Linked DNA regions of Homo sapiens. The protein of the gene in region 2 purifies or fractionates together with the protein of the main gene of each other region. This does not show direct contact. Each region holds a gene or a part of one and is shown on either strand. Other genes may lie near its edges.

What was found.
Region 1: the proteins of SCML1 (region 2) and ARVCF purify together in Homo sapiens (co-immunoprecipitation; 2 studies listed by BioGRID and IntAct, with this or other methods). This does not show direct contact.

The regions. Positions count from the first base shown.
Region 1 is NC_000022.11:19,978,461-19,986,697, forward strand, and holds part of ARVCF (splicing regulator ARVCF), read right to left. Parts: exon of another isoform or gene 5,213-8,237; intron 3,632-5,212; coding exon 3,473-3,631; intron 3,278-3,472; coding exon 2,751-3,277; intron 1,783-2,750; coding exon 1,283-1,782; intron 1,233-1,282; exon of another isoform or gene 932-1,232; intron 621-931; coding exon 437-620; intron 1-436. UniProt on the Homo sapiens protein: Contributes to the regulation of alternative splicing of pre-mRNAs.
Region 2 is NC_000023.11:17,746,256-17,754,492, reverse strand, and holds part of SCML1 (sex comb on midleg-like protein 1), read right to left. Parts: intron 5,094-8,237; coding exon 4,989-5,093; intron 4,600-4,988; coding exon 4,200-4,599; intron 2,679-4,199; coding exon 2,527-2,678; intron 1,236-2,526; coding exon 1,101-1,235; 3' UTR 1-1,100. UniProt on the Homo sapiens protein: Putative Polycomb group (PcG) protein. PcG proteins act by forming multiprotein complexes, which are required to maintain the transcriptionally repressive state of homeotic genes throughout development.

The DNA.
Region 1 (8,237 bases), on a different chromosome or scaffold from region 2:
AGGGCTGCGCGGGAACACCCTGATGGACAAGCAGGACTGTGGGGACCCAGGACTCTGTGGGGTCAGCAGGGCCTCCCAGGGGTAGGAGGGGAAGGGCAGAGGTCACAGGTGGCTGGGATGAGCCTCCCAGGCAGATGAACAGGAAGGTCCCAGCTCCCCCTCTGGCTGTCAAGTGATGGGAAGGTAGGTGAGAGCTGGGCAGGGCTACGGTACCACAGAGACCCCTCCAGAGGGTGCCCCTGGGAAGACTGGGACACCACTTGGGGGTGAGGACAGCTCCATCAGGCCCCACTTCTCATCCACAGGACTTGTGCCACAGCTCTGAAGCTCCTAAGCTCTGGCGCTCCTAAGCTCGCCGCCATCTTCCACACTATCTGGGACCACGAGGACGGGGCCTGGTGTGCATGTGGGCTTTAGCACCAGGTCTGGTCCACACCTCAGGCAGCCCGACGTGTTCTTGAAGACAGTTGTCCACTCGGCGTCCCGTGGCTTGGAGTCCTCGTTGGGCTCACGCTCCCATCCTGAGTGGGGCACGATCACCTCGTGGGTCAGCGTCTGCAGGCCATGGTCAATGATGACCATCTTCAGGGGCTCATAGGATGACAGGTTCCACAGGGTGCCTGTGGGGTGCGATTGGCCAATCTGTGCTGACCATATGCACCGCCTGCCTACCTCCCCAGGTGGCCACGCTCAGGACCTGTCCCACTCTCCTCATGTCCCAGCTCATGCAGAACAGTAGGAAGTAACAAAAGCCGTGAGTGGTTCCGGGGGACACCCAGTACTGGTTTCCAGCTAGGAAGGAGCCCCAAAGGGGAGGAGGTGCAGAGGAGGGTGTGGCAGTGCTGTCCCGTCCCACCCATTCCCTGCCATGTGGCAGGTGGCACTAACACTCCTGAGGCCACAGGGCCTCACAGAGACACGGTGACCCTACCTGTCCCTCAGCTCTCACAAGGCACAAGCCCCACCACTGCACGGTTGGGGTGGGAACCAAGGAGGTGGGTCCCAGGAGAGTTTCTGTGGGGGCAGGAGGTGTGAAGGCAGGAGGTGAGGGGACATGCCCGAGGGGCGCAGCGTCAGCCTCCCTGCTATGGTAGAGACTGGGGAACCTGTCACAGTGTCTGGGCCTGATGCCTGGCTCCTGGGGCAAGCGTCTCAGCAGCTGCACTCCTGCCTACCGGGTGCTTTCCCAGGCGGTCGCAGGCCGAGTGGCCTCGTTCCTCCCGGGTTGAGCCTCACACTCTTCTCTTCCCAGGGGATGTGAGCATGGCCAGGTCCCACTCACCAGTGACAAGCTCACGGACCTCGTTGTCCCGGGCAGCCCTCAGCAGGCGCACCAGGGCAGGCACACCACCGCAGTCCCGGATGGCGGCCTTGTTGTCAGTGTCGCGGCCATAGGAGAGGTTGCGCAGTGCCCCACAGGCCCGGCGCCGCACCTCAGCCCGCGGGTGGTCCAGCAGTGCCACAAGCAGCGGCAGCCCCCGCAACTGCCGTACACGCCGCTTGACACCCTCGTTCTCAAAGCACAGATGCTGCAGGTAGGCGGCCGCATTGGCCTTCACGGGGTCCACGGGGTGCCGCAGCATGGCCAGCACCTCAGGCAGCTCAGGGTCCCGCCAGCGCGGCTCCTTGCGGGCGCTATCCACTGAGGGCGAGCGCCGCACCAGCCGGTCCAGGCTGCCCATGCTGCCCCGTTCAGGCTGGGCCAGGGGCGCCGTCACCATTGGGAACGCAGGCCGCTCGTCCGCCAGCTCGCCGCCATCATCTGCTGTGTCCTCGTAGGCCCTGCACAGGCAAGTGGGGCGCGTGGACATCGTCACAGCAGCCGCCAGCCCTGCCTCTGAGCTGCCCCATCACACCTTCTTCAGGACTGCAAACTCACCCAGCAGCGCTGGGCTGAGAGCACCTGTATCTTGGCCCGGAGCATGGTGGGGACACAGAGAGTCATGCACCAGCCCAGTGAGAACCAATTCAGAGCCAAATGCCAAACCCCAGCCAGCGGCTACCAGGACCCAGGCAACCCTCCCAGGACAGCAAACTCACTCACTGCTGTCACCGGGCAGTTTCCCAATCCCGAGCAAAACAAGTTTCTGTGAGACATCTGCTATGGCTGCTGGAGAGACCGTCTCACCTCCCTTCCACAAAACCACCCCATCTTCCATGAGGCCCATCTCTGGCTGTGCCAGGATGTAGGGGGAGTAAATGGCCCTCTCCGCATGAAGCCATCCCAGTAGGACCACCTGAGGAGTATTCAGGCCACCAGCCCCTTGGGGCACAAGATCTCCTTAGCTCTCAGTAGCCCTGTGGGTTGCTGTCATCAAACCGCCTGCCCTGAGGCTAGGAGTGACGGTCAGGTGACTTGGCCAGGGTCACACAACAAAATCCTGACCCGGGCTGTGGTCACATCCCCACTCCAGAGATGCAGAAACTGAGGGCAATGGGGACAGAACCAGGGGCTGTGACAAGGGCCAGGGCTCTGGGTTCTGGTTACCCAGAGTGTGGCTGGAGCAAGGCCAGTGGCCGGCACTCTTCCCAGCTTTCCTGGGCCCTGGGCCTGCAGGACAGTGCCCAGCCGAACTCCTACCACCCCAGGGTCCACCTTTCTTCTGTCCCTGACGAGAGCCAAGGCCAATTCAAACTAACATGCATGACTAACTCAACTGCGCCACTTGACAAGTGGGGCACTCTGTAGTTGGGGGGTGGAGGGCAGACTTCCCAGAGGAGGTAGCCACAGGGGACGGGGTGCAGCTCACCTGGTATGAAGGCCCCGCCCACACTCAGGCCTCCTCCTTGTGGCCGTGCCATAGTCAGGCTCCAGCTCAGGGCCACCCTCGTCATCAGCGGCCAGGCTGCGCGTGTCATCCTCCAAGCCATACGGCTCTGCCTGGAAGCGCTCGGGCAGGGAGCGGCCACCTGGTGGCCCAGGCTCAGGACCCACCGGGAAGGCTTCCCGGTGGCCAGGCAGTGTGAAGCAGCCATCACCAGGGCCTGGGCCAAGGGGGCCAGCACGTGGGGGCCGCATGCCCAGCCCTCGGGACAGGCTGCCATAGCTGGGGCTGTCCCGGGGCTCGGGGCCTTCGGGAAAGCCACCCCCACTGCTGAGGTAGGCTCGAGAGAGTGTGGCCACTGGGCCACCACCACGCAGCAGGAAATGCCGGTCCAGGGCACCATCTGCAAAAGGGCCTAGTGGGGGGCCGCCATCCAGCAGGGGGAGTCCATCTGGGCCCACGGGCACCTGGCGTACTGTCCGAGTGGTCACCGTCTTGACAGTCTTGGTGACCTGGTGGATGGATAGGCAGGTAGGTGGGGTAGCACGAGAGGCCTAGAAACTGCTTTGCTGGGGTCTGGCTGGCCTTAATTTCCCACTCGAGCAATGAGAGGCCCCACGTGGCAAGCTTCCATGTCCACTCTGCAGGTGGGACAGCTGCAGCAGCCTGGCCCTGCTCACCCACCCACTGCCTGGGCCTGGCCATACCTTGGTCTCGGTGCGCCGGGTTGTGCCATCTTCGGATGTGACAATAGACACATGGGAAGTGGGTGTGCCGGGGTCCTCCTCCACCGTCACGGTCTCCTCCAGCACATCAGGTGCCTCCGGCATCGTGGCCAGTGAGGCCTGGCTGCCTGGGCTCTGCTCCTGGGGCAAGGAGGGACATTGGTGGGCAGGCCTGCTGCTCAGTCACCCCTGGAGTGCAGGTCTCCACACACAGCAGCTCTGCCTCAGCTCATGCTGGCCAGCACACCAGGGTGCCTTCCTCCTGGTCCTGAACCCACCCACCCCAAGGCCTGTTTCGGCCCAAGCTGACAAGGACAGCAATAAGTTCTTGCCCTCTGAACATCGAGGTGCTAACCCTGCCCCGGCACCCCATCCTGGGGGGACCCTGGGGCTGGACCCCCATCTCAGGTCTCCTCAGGCTGAGTTGGCAGATAAGGACATAGACCCTGGGGGGTGAAGTCTTCAGGGCCCTCCCCAAGCTGCATGGCCTGGCTGCCACAGGCTCCTCCAGGCCCCAGGAGGTGCCAGTGAGACCTGCAGCATGCCTTCCTGATGTCAACCACCACCCCTAGCTGGGACATCATGGTGTCCTGGGGCCTCCTCCCTCACCTGCCCCAGACACCTTGAGTATAGAAGCCTTGTGGGGGCTGTTTCAGCACTGCCTACTGACTCCTGTGGCCACACTAAGGTTCCCGCCACCAACGCCAGCCAGACGCCCTCAAGGGACAGAAATACGCAGTTCCCAGAACACCCCATGCACCTGCAGCACCAGTATGTCCTTATTCCTTCCAGCCCAGACATTCTTGAGTGTTGTGTAGGCACAGGTTTGCCCTACCTCGGGCCAGTGGCTGGCGCCCCCAGTGACTGAGACTCTGGGCATCATATCAGAGACCAGACACAGTAGATTTGAGCCTATGGGTGCCCTTGCCACCATTCTGCATGGGGTGACGACACTGGAATTCTAGGCAAGACAACTCTGGACTGAGACTTTTCTATCCACATGCCTACTGACTGGACTTGCCAGTGGGGAAACTGAGGCTCAAAGAGGATAGGCTGGCCCACATCAGAGCCAGGCCCAACCCCTGCCGCGCTGAGTGGCTTGAGGACCTAAGACTCACAGCCTGCCCCGGGCCTCTGACTGCACAGGTGCCTGGCCCCAGGGCCACATGGCACCAACATCCGGGGATCGGCATCTAGCCAGGATGGGCAGGAGCTGAAACCCAAGCCCTGGTGGGTGGGTCAGGCGGAGCACATTCCCAGGCAGCCAGGGCAGGGTCAGCAGGAGGACAGGTCCTGCTTTGTGGCCCAGGCCCCTGGTCCCTGCACAATGGGTCCCTTGCCTGGGCCCCCTGGGGCCTGCACAGACACTAAGCTCTGCCAGGCTCCAGAGGCAGACTCTGCCCATTCTTGGGCCTGGGAGGTGAGCCAGGTTAGATGCTCAGCGCTGCCCTCAGGACCTGCCTGCCAAGGCTCGTGGGCTGGGAAGCCTCCCCAGGTCAGGGTCCTATCCTGGGGGAATACTTGACCCCCAAATGCATGCAGTGCAGGTGTCCAGGAAGGGGCCTGCACCAACATGTTAGGACAGGTGTATCCCTCAGGCTGACAGAGGAAAGAAGTGGCCACAGAAGGCACCTCCCCCTCTCCCACAGGCAGGGTCTTGGAGGATGACAGATAACTTTATAGATGGGGAAACTGAGGCCTGGCAGGGGGAAGAGGATTTACCTAGAACTTCACAGTCCAAGTGGGATTTCAAGCACCCCCAGAGAAGGCAATCTGGCAAGGAAGGCTTTGGGCCTCATCTCGCCCTCAGTCTTGAGATGTAGGTGGAATGCCTGCTGTGGACCTGGCTAGGAAAAGGGGACCTGTTCCCTGGGAAAAAGAAATAGACTGAGGCCTAGAGTGGGGACAACTGGCACGCTGCCAGGCAGGGCAGGCTGGGCTCTTCTCCAAAGGCACTGGGGAGCTGGGACTGCTCTGAAGCAGGAGAAGGCTTGTGTGGCCCATCACTGCTGGGGCTGGGCTGCCCCATCTGTATCTGGCAAATGTGTGTCAGGCCCTGAGCTCTCTCTGCTGGGCCCTGGGCGGGGCTCATCTGAGTTCAAGCAGGGGCCCAGGCACTGAGGGGCTGCAGTTCTGGCGACAGAGTGAGGAGGGTATAAAGCAAGACTGAGGAAACGTTACCCAGGACTCTGCCAGTGGGATGTAGCCCCTCATATATGTATATATTTACATCTATTAAAAACTCAGAGAAAAACCCCCTCTTCCCTAGCTAGGCAGTGGGGGTAAGCGGGAGAGGAAAAGGGGAGGACATCTCAGGACCCCGATGCCACTCTGTGGCCCAGCTTATCCCTCCCACCAAGGCTGTGGTGAGGGTCTGACAGGCAGAGCTGGGGTGGTCCAGGAGAGCCACGCCCCCGCAGCAAGACCTGGCAACCCTGCGGCACCACCCATCAGCCCCGGCCTAGCAGCCCCGCAGTAGGATCCAGAGGCCCCAAGAGTCCCTGCTGGCAAATGACCTCAGGGAGCTAAAAACGAGGGATGACTTCACCCGGGTGGCAGGTGCATGAGTCAGCCAGTGATCACAGGAAAGCCCGGCCCCTGCTACACATGCCCAGGCACACACACATGCATATACATGACCCCTCAGACAGGGACACATGCATGTACATACACGTGTGCAAGTACCCAGCCCGGCACAGGCCGAGCACATCAACCCGTGTGCTCTAACAGCACCCCAAGGGCACGGCGCCCACTGTTCCCAGAGGCACACTCGTGAGCACACATCCTCCCGTCCTCCACCGTGTATCGGAGACCCTTATCCATGCAGGGCCTCACAGAGTCTCAACACACAGGGACAGGGGCCACCAACTCTGCCAATCATCTGCCCAGCATCCACTCTGGGAGTCTCAGAGCTGGCTGGCAGATGGAGAAACTGAGGTGTAGAGTAGTGAGAGGCCCATAGCCAGCTGGTGGCTCAGCTCTCTGCAACATCTTTAGGGTGGGGCTGTGGAATGGTGGGCTGACTCTCAACAGGAGTTGGCTGCAGTCCCTGGATCCCTGTCTGGCCCCAGTGTCCATGTCTGACGTGCACCTGCCCAGGCTGGCCCACTCTCAGGGACCCTGGCCCTGCAGCCCCACACAGCCTCTGCCTCAGACCCAACTCTGGGCTGCTCCCCTCTGTACCCTAGACATGGGCTCTACCCTGAACACCCCACCTCCAGCCCAATCCCACATGCTGCATCCTGTCAGTCGTCTCTCATCACCCCCTCCCCAGCTGGGGCCCCATCCTTGCTCCTCTTGCACCCCGCCCGGCCTCCCAGCACTCATCCCTCCCTTGGCTCTTCAATCTCTGGTGCACCAGGTCTGGGGCCCCCAGGACTGGCCCAGAAACAGGCTGCTGCCCAGGCCTGGGGTTTCCCATGAGCTCCCTTGGGCTTGTGGGAGGGGCCAGAGTGACCAGGGAGGTAGACCACCTACCCCTGCTCACAAGAGGGTCCCGGGAACACAGGGCTGAGCCCAGCATAGGGGCTCTGGGCCCCATCACGCACCTTCGGCTCAGCTTCTTCACAAGGAGGTGAGAAGGACAGAGGGGGCTGGGGTCGTGGGACGTGCTGGGTAGCATCAGTCTCACTTTTGTGGCAAAATGCAAGGAACACAGGGAGCAGAAAAGCAAGATTGGACCAACACACAGAGGGATGCTGGGGCACAGGTGGCTGGGCCCTGGTCCCATATTACTTATCTACCCAAACCACCGGACTTCACAGATGCACCACGGTCTGTGTCCTGAAGAACAGACTGCAGGGGCAGGCCCCTCCCCTGTCCAAGGCCTGGCTAGCACACACAGAGAATGAGTTAAGGTGAGATTGCACACCTGGATCCCACACCTGCAGGCCAGGCTCCCAGAGGGCAGGAGGTGGCTGCTGTCCGATGGATGAATGAATGAATCTTCTCCATCCCCATTATGGCCCTCCCAGGTAGAGTCCAGGACAAGCCAGGCTGGCATCTCTCACCAGGCAGCAAGCCCTTGGCCACCACAAAATGCCCTTTCCCTTGGTGCCACAGCCTCTGACCAGTCTCCAAGACCTGGAGCTTACTTCTCCACACAGCAGTGCACCTGCCAGGGCGTGGCCCCAGGCAGAGATGCCAAAAAGCCAAGCTGGGGGAGCAAACTTGGGGTGGGAGAGCAGGGCTGACTGTCATCCACCTCAGCTTCCCCAAGCTCAGCTTGGGGTCATCAGACACACTGTGACCATGGATTTCCCAAAAACTGGTCCCTCCACCTCTGAGGGCCAGACCCTGGGGGCCACACCAGGGCCGTAGGACAGGCAGGGGCCTAGTTGCCCAGGTAGCAGGTGTGTGGGAGACCTGCCTCCCACCACAGAGGGTCTTGGCTGGTCTCTCCTCTGCTCAGTTTCCCTGCCTGTTACTGAACCCAGCACTGCTCTGAGCAGAGGACAAACTGCCTATGCCTCCCCCCACCTCAATGCTGAGAGGGGGAGGATCCCGTTTTCCTTAGAGATCTCCTCCAGCATCCATTAGTGGGCAGGGCCTGTCTCTATCCCTCCCATCACGTGCGCCTCGGAGGCAGAGAAGACTTCCATTAAAGCTCCGGAAGCTCCTTTGCAGGTCCCGGGAGTCAGAGCCGGCGTAGGGGGTGTGGAGGGGAGAGGAGGAACCCTCTCAGGGAGCAGAAGGCCTACCCGGGCTTCCCTCTTCAGACTTCAGCCTCCTTCCTGCACAGACAGAA
Region 2 (8,237 bases):
TAATTAGAAACATTGCATAGGACGGAGAACTTCCCTGTATGGAAACCAATCTACAGATTGTTTCTTGTCCTCTAAAAAGTAAGTTGAGAGGTACTAATGATGGCAAATAATCCATTTATATTTTACAAAATAAAACATTTCACTAATATATGGCTCATCCTACCTCTGTGGCAATACAAAATGCCATTTCAAATTTTTTTTAAAAAGATTGTGTGAATACTTCGGGTGAGAATAAAATATAAAATACTATCTATATAAAGAATAAACACATAAAATACAGTTATGCCTTTTAAAAGTTTGGACAGACGTATCTTCATAGAGAGATGCAAACAATGAAAGTGTAGTTATAGGTCCAAACTTAGCCAAAATATGACAGTTTTAATATAATAGTTTGTTTGAAAAAAAGTAGTCAGACTTCATCCAAACCACCCTTGCGGTACAATATTTCTTGCATAAAATAACCATTCTATCTATCCTATAGTTTATCTTAAAACTGTTAAGAGCACATAATAAAAGTTTATATGCTTATTTTTTACTCTAAATCTGAATAAATAAAACATATAGAGAAATAATAGCAGAAAGGAAAATAATTTATATGGCTATTCTCTTTCTGGAAACTTGTAGAATACTGCAACATCAGACAGATAAAATACTCCAGAAAGAGATATATATGGGTACACCTTTAAATTCTCTTCTGAGGAATAATTCCCATAGATTCAATCATAGGAGTTGTCAACCCTGATAATACCTCTCTTAGCTGTTTTGGTTCTCTGTATCGAGATGAACCAGAATCAAAGGGTTTTTTTTTTTTTCTGTTTCTTGCATGAAATATATTTGTAAACAATATAATAAAAGTAATTTTTAAAGACCTATAAAGAATGAATTTTCTATTGGACTATTCTAATACTATCTAGCAGTTTAAATGGTTTTTAAAGAAGTAGACTGGACTATAACATAGTTCTACAATTCTAGCTATAATATATTTTGAGAGATACTTTCTACAAAACAAAAACGACTAAAGGGCAGAAAAATGATTCCACACTAAGAAGGCATTGGTGCCTCTAGAAGTTGGCCCAATCTAAATTTGCACAAGGATTTTTTCAATTTTCAAAGCATTTTCCTTGTTTAAGTCGGTCAATGTAGTAGCATAGCTTCACAGCCGTTCCCAGCTTCACCCCCAAGTGCTTCAGCAACACGTCACTCGTGAGTAGGAGCAGAGCCTTCCCGTCAATTTCCTATGGAGAGAAGAAACTTAACGATAATTAATAATGCTTCCATATTTTCATCAGAATGGTTAGTTCTTTATGAGAACATGTAAAGCAAACTAGAGAGCAGCTCATTGCAGATGTATATTCTCTGAATATGCGTCTACTTTATGAAAACTATTAAAAATATAACTTGTACAGTGAAGCACCGTTTGGTAATGTATAAACTCATTTCAAGTTCTGAGAAAAAGGAAATTTAACATAATATCTTAAAAAATAAACTGTGTCAAACTTAATTTTAAATATATACTGTATGTTGAATAAAATACTACACATCCATGACAAAATAGTAAAGACTATGAATAGTAAAAATGAATTTCAGATGTTCATTAACTTTCTGAGAAGGGCTGGGAAGATGAGTACGTCAACATCAGTGCAAACTGTAAATGTCTATACAATGTTGTCTTTATGATGAATGCCAATTAGTTGTCTGAAACTAATTAGATGCTAAAACTAATCACCAATTTTCTTACTATATTAAAAATCAGATATGTGGCTACTAATTTTGTTAGGACACACTGTGAAAATATCTGAATAAATAAAACATAGTCACAAAGCATTCTCCTAAAATTCCTTATCTTAATTGATCAACTTATGCTGCTGAAGCATATGATTTGGTTTTATATGTTCCAGTTAAAAAATAAAATTTTATTTACTCATTTAACACTATCTGAAAAGGTCTGAAATCCCTTATAGTACAACCTTTGTTTGGCACCTTCTATACTTTTTCTACTAAGTAAAACTCAAAATTAAAGAAACTAGAACTTACAAAACTTCGGCCTAGGATATTACTTTGTAAATGGTCTGATAATAGCAAGAGGGTATTAGCATTACAAATCATCAATAATCGAGGCAAATGGAATCAGTTGTTGAATCACTGGTTATATAAAACGAAGGCCACCCTGTTATAGCTTGTGGTTACCCCCTCCTCCTCGTGGTCCTGGTGCCCAGCTGGGAGCAGATAGGGGGAGGATCTTTGTATCTGTCATTACAAAGGGGAGGTACACCTGAGTGGCCATGCTGAATCATCATGTCTTAAGAAGCTGAGGCAGTTTGTATTTTAGGCACTTCTACACCCATTTAAAGAACAGACCATTAGCCTACCATTTAAGGCTAACCTTGGGCAAAATAAGCTTTCTCATATATGGAAAAATCAGCTAATAGGGTTCTCCCACCATTCACACAGTATCCAACTGAAAGACCTGCACAGAGGTCATTCAAAGGCATTACAGCAGGAAAACAGGATCAAAAGATACATTACATGGCTTCTGAAGAGGTCGACAAGAGGGCATAATGCAAGAGGATCTGTTTGTTTTAGAAATAGGACCACTGCTTCCACCGACCAGGTTGAAGGGTGCTTAGTGATGCTTCCTTCCTCTATGTAACCGTCATTTTCAACTGGTGACCTTGTAACTTCAATGGAGAGGGGGAAAAGAAAAAAAAGACAAATCACACTCGACCTGATCATTATCCTGAAAGAAGAGATGTTAGGTAAGGAGGAATGCTCTCTTTGTTGGAACCTTCTGTGATGTTCCTAGCAAGGAGTCAAGACTCCAACTGTAAAATCTAGTGAAAGCCTATATAAAGATGATGTGGGGATGCCTACACAAGAGTGTCCCATCTGACCTCCCCTAAATAGCAAAAGCTGGTTCAGAAGTTACATTAAAGTTTCAAAGATCACAAAACAGACTAAGTAAACCAAGTCTTCTTTGGCCACAGGCAAATATGGCAAAAGATCTGTCACTTGGGTAAAATTAGGTTAATCTAACCTAACCTATGACTCTCTTCAAGTATTTCAAGGAATTTCTCTCTTAATCTATCTAGATTAGGTTAATTTTACTAGCAAAATATAATGGAAATTCTCCAAATTTACAGTTTTATAATTGCTTAAATTTGTTCCTTTTAATCAATGAATCTCAATAACAACCCCATTATCTTTAAGAACCAAATTAGTACTTTTATCAAATCTTCCCCACGTATTCAATAAGGTTATTTTTAGTATCGCTTTACTTTTTAGATTCCTGTCTCTCGTGGCTTAAGTGCTAATGTGCATTGTGAAGAAAACAAGATTATTTTCTGCTGAACTAGGTCAGAAGTAACTAACATTTTATTTAATTCCTCTTTCATGTTTAATTGCATAGTAATAGAGATTTTGGTCAAAGGTTTATATGTTTAAAAAATAACTGAGATATGAGACAGTTTAACTGCTCATACTTCAGAAAGTTTTAGCTATGCTCTACACTAAGTTGTGTTGAAATTTCTTTGTGTACTGACAAGTATCCTTTTACTCACCCACAGTGTTAGACTCCCTAAAATTAGTGTGTGATGACTAAAGTGGGTTTTGTAATTAGTTAGGAAAATTTGTTTCTCCAACCAGGACCATCAACACAATTTGATCTTTTTGTGTGTGTGAATTAGCCAAAAACATACCCTTTCTTCCCTACCATCTGGGCTCTTGCCATATCAGGAGTGTTTTTTATTTATCTAGGGAAAGGGTAAATAAAAATAGAAGATTTGGAAAAGCACAATGGGGCAGAGTTCTAGAAGTGCTACTCACCAGCTCTGTGATCGTGGGGATGGCGTAATAAATGTGCCAAAACCATGGGGTCATTATGAGTATAAGTGGAGAAGAGGCATGTCAGCTGATTGGTGCAGTGCCTTGCACATAATATGCATTGAATAAATGTTAGTCATCATTCTGAATATCACCTAAAACCAGCCCTCAAAATAGGAAACGAACAGCTTCCACTAGTTTGCATCAAGGATGTTGATAAATATAGGTCAAATAGTGCTACTTGTAAATATGGCATTTCAAACTCACCAAACCAGAAGGGAAGCAGAGAGATGATCCAGTATACCTATTCTCCATCAAAGCTGAGTAACTCATCATCTCAGGGGCATGTACCAAATTGGGCTCTCCCTGGGCCAGCATACCTGAAGGTGGTGCTGCAGAAGCATGGTCAGTTGAGTAAGTGTTGTGGATGCTGTCAGCCCGAGGGTTGCCAAGGCAGAGCCCTGAAGAAGAACCATACGTTGCACCATCAGATGCATAATACGGCTGACAATTATGCTCAGAGAAATCTGAGGGATGCACTGGACTCGGAGTGCGGCTGAGGATCGGGTCCTCCTCCAGCTCAGCTCGCTGGTATTCTTCCATGCAAAAGGATGGCCTTGGAAGGTTGCTCGGGGAATTATTCTCACGCCTTGACACTGGTAAAGTGGGGCTGTAACTTTCAGGGTAGGAGAATGTCTCGTAAACCTCATTTTTCTTCATTTTCTGGAGTTTAAGCTTTTTAACAAGCCGGTAAGAATGCTTTTTATATCCATATCGCTTCTGAAATCACACAAACACAGCATAAACCAACAGTGAGTAAAAAAGTAAATAAAATTAGTAGCAAATACATTAATACTTATTTTCCATGCAACATTGCTTTACATTATTAAAAATAAATGGTCCCTTTTGATTATATAATTCTTCAATCCTACATTTTAATTGTATTTTACACATTATAATTACAAACATAAAAATAGGCAGCATCATAAATTATCAAACCTAAACTTCAGCGTTCTCCCAACAGAGTTTAGTCTCCATCTACTGTTACAAGTATAGACATGCCTTGCTAATCTCACACAGATACTGGTACTCTCTCACTTCTAGCTCATTGGCATCTTTACAAACCAGAGGTTTATCACAGTTGTAAAAATGTTTTTTATAACACTTACATGATTTGTCCACAGGGATCTCGCATGGAAACGTTGGATTTTTGAAACCTTTCTACGAATCACATCAATCTTCTTATCCAGGTTTTGCAGAGCATCATATATAACCTATTATAATACAATGTAGTCATATAATTGGTATACAATGTAAAATATAATTTTTTATTTCAAAGAAAAGTAACGTGAAAATACCATTAAGTCAAATGTTAACTGCTAGACACAACAAAAGTTCTCAAGCCATCAGAAATGTCTTGCTCCTATTCAAGGCCTGGCTGTAGGTGACACAGAGCCAACAGGCTGAGCTAGAGTAGTCCCCTCCCCTGCTCTACTCCATGTAGGAATTGAGGAAGCTCTAATGCTGGTGAATGAATGTCCCACAATGCCTCTATGCTAGCACATTGATGATGAAGACACTGCACATCAAGGAAGGTGCTATTTTAGGAAAGAAATCTGCTAAAAGAACAAAGACTCACTTTATGATATACATATGTAACATATATGTTCATATATGTACAAATATGAAGTCTATATTATATACAGACAGTGAGTGTTCCACTCCAGAAAGAACACTGAACCAAATATAACAGATGTGACTTTTGGCTTCAAAGTATTTTTAAATCACGCAGTCAGCAATTAATCTTACAAAACCGTTAAGTACACATCTCTTACGCGCCAATCGAACACATAGGAGACTGATAAAAGTCTGAGAATTCTTCTTGAAATACACAGAGACTTTGGGCAAAGAAAAATACACTTAAGCAAAGGGCCAGAAACATTGCAATCAAGCACATAGGAGGCTGATAAAAATCTGAGAATTCTTCTTGAAATACACAGAAACTTTGGGCAAAGAAAAATACACTTAAACAAAGGGCCAGAAACATTTCCTCATTCATTCATTCATTCATTCATTCACTCATTCAACTAAACCTTTATTGATGGCCTACCACCTGGCAGAACTACTTTGCTAGGTATTGAGAACATGGACCGAAAAAAAAAGCTCCTGGCCGGGTGCGGTGGCTCATGCCTGTAATCCCAGCACTTTGGGAGGCTAAGGCAGGTGAATCGCTTGAGCTCAGGAGTTGGAGACAAGCCTAGGCAACATGGCGAAACCCCCGTCTCTACCAAAAATACACAAAATCAGCCAAGCGTGGTGGTGCATGCCTGTAGTCCATGCTACTAGGAAGGCTGAGGTGGGAGAATCACCTGAGCCTGGGAAGTTGTGGCTGCAGTGAGCCATGACTGAGCCACTGCACTCCAGCCTGTCCTAGAGGAACTACCATCTCAGCTGGGAGAGAGACAAGTAAAAAGAGGATTCCAGCAGACAAAGTGATAAACAGCCTGGAACAGTGGTTTGCAAAGTGTGGTCCACGGACTGGTAGCATCAACATCACCTGTAAGCTCATCAGAAATGCCAAATGCCAGGTTGTACCCCAGACCTATGGAACCTGGAACTCTGAGAGTGGGGGCAGTGGTCTATGTTTTCACAAGCCCCCCAGGTGATTCTGATGGCCCTAGTGAGAACCACAGGGCTGCGGCACTGAGATAAACAGTGCAGGCTCTTGGGGAACATGGTTGGGGTCAAATACTACAGTCCAGCCACTTATTGGCTGTGTGACCCAGGGCAAGTTACTTAACCTCTCTGTGCTTCAGTGTCCTCATGTAGGGAATCAGGATGAAAAGCTCTCTCAGGGTTCTCTCGAGGACGAGAACCTTGCTATAGTATTAGGTTAATACTAACAGTAACAGCACTACACTACACCCGGTCCAACAGTGCTCAGTGGTCTCTTCATGTTACTATTGTTATTACCAGTGGCGTGACACAGGTGGGAACAGGAGGCTAAGCCTGCACAGAAAAGCAGTCCTAACCCAGGCTGCAGTCACGGAGACCTTTTCAGAGGAGGTGAGGTCTGAAGTGAGAATTAAAACATGAGAAGGCCCTCGCCAGGTGAGGATGCATGGAAGGGCTTACAGCATAGAAGGAACAGCAGGTTCATAAATACCCAGAGAGAAAAACAGGAAGCCAGGTGTGGAGACAGCAAGTATGAATGACATTCCAGGAGTGGGGCTGTCACAGGAAGAAGAGAGTGAGGATGACAGGAAAGGAGGGATGGGAAGCAAGAGAAGTGGCTTCTCCAAGATGTGGGAGAACTCGTAGAGGGGAAGGAGGGACAGGGACTGGAGCCAGAGGAGAGAGAGGGGGATGCCCGATGGGGGGCAGCTCTGAGTTCAGGGAGGGGACTAGATGCAGAAAGCAGCAAGGGTGTCAGCCCTGGTCACTAGAATGGCCGGGAAGGGGTCAGAAGAAGGGCAGGGATGAGGGCAGTTGGTTGGCTGTGGGGACAGTTATGAGGACTCGGAGGAGAGGACTGCCCCAGGTGCTCCACTATCTCCACGAGTGAAGAGGCAGGACTAGGGAGCTGAGGTAGGCAGGGGATGGCGAGGTCTTCCTCTGCTTCCAGACTAAGCAGGATGGAGACAGACTCAAGAGGGAACTGGGATGAAAGAACAAGGCAGGCTGGAGTGCCACCTCTGTGATCTAGAACGGGTAGGGGAAGAAAGAGCCAGCCCCTTGGCAGCAATGGAGAGGGGCCCTTGGGGCCATTTCAGGCTGACCATGGCCCTGGACACCTCCCCCCACAGATGCTACCTCCCACCTCAGCGTATAAGCTGACCTAGACCATGACCTAGCAGTGCATGGGGAGGCAGGCTGGGGAGAACCTGCTCCCTCCCTTCCCAGCTCGCCTCTGCACCCACTTCCCCCCAAGACTGTATGTGTCCCTTGGAAGCACTCCACTTCTGTTCTCCTCCATGATCATGATAAACACCCAAACAATTTTACTTTCCAAAGTATGTTAGCTCATTCCATTCAAGAAACCTTATATATGGTAAGAAACATTATATATATATAAACCTTCATTACCTCTGGGGTATGCAACTCACAAAATTCCCAGTAATCACATCTCTACCAACATGGTGATTCTTAAAACAACTCCTCAAAACTACCTTAGGTATGTTTCTTTACTAAACCTTGATGGGCTGCCACTTTGTTTCCATTGAGATATCTTGATGTGCATTTAGGCACATACTAAATTTCATCCAAATCAGTCAATTTCCTTTAAGGATTTTGTAGGGGAAACTAATTTAATACTGAGCAATGTAGATGAAAGAGACATAACTACATTTGGTTGGTAATGGGCTTTTTAAAAAGCTATTAAATCTACATGTTGCTATTCAGGAAATGTGGTTCTAACT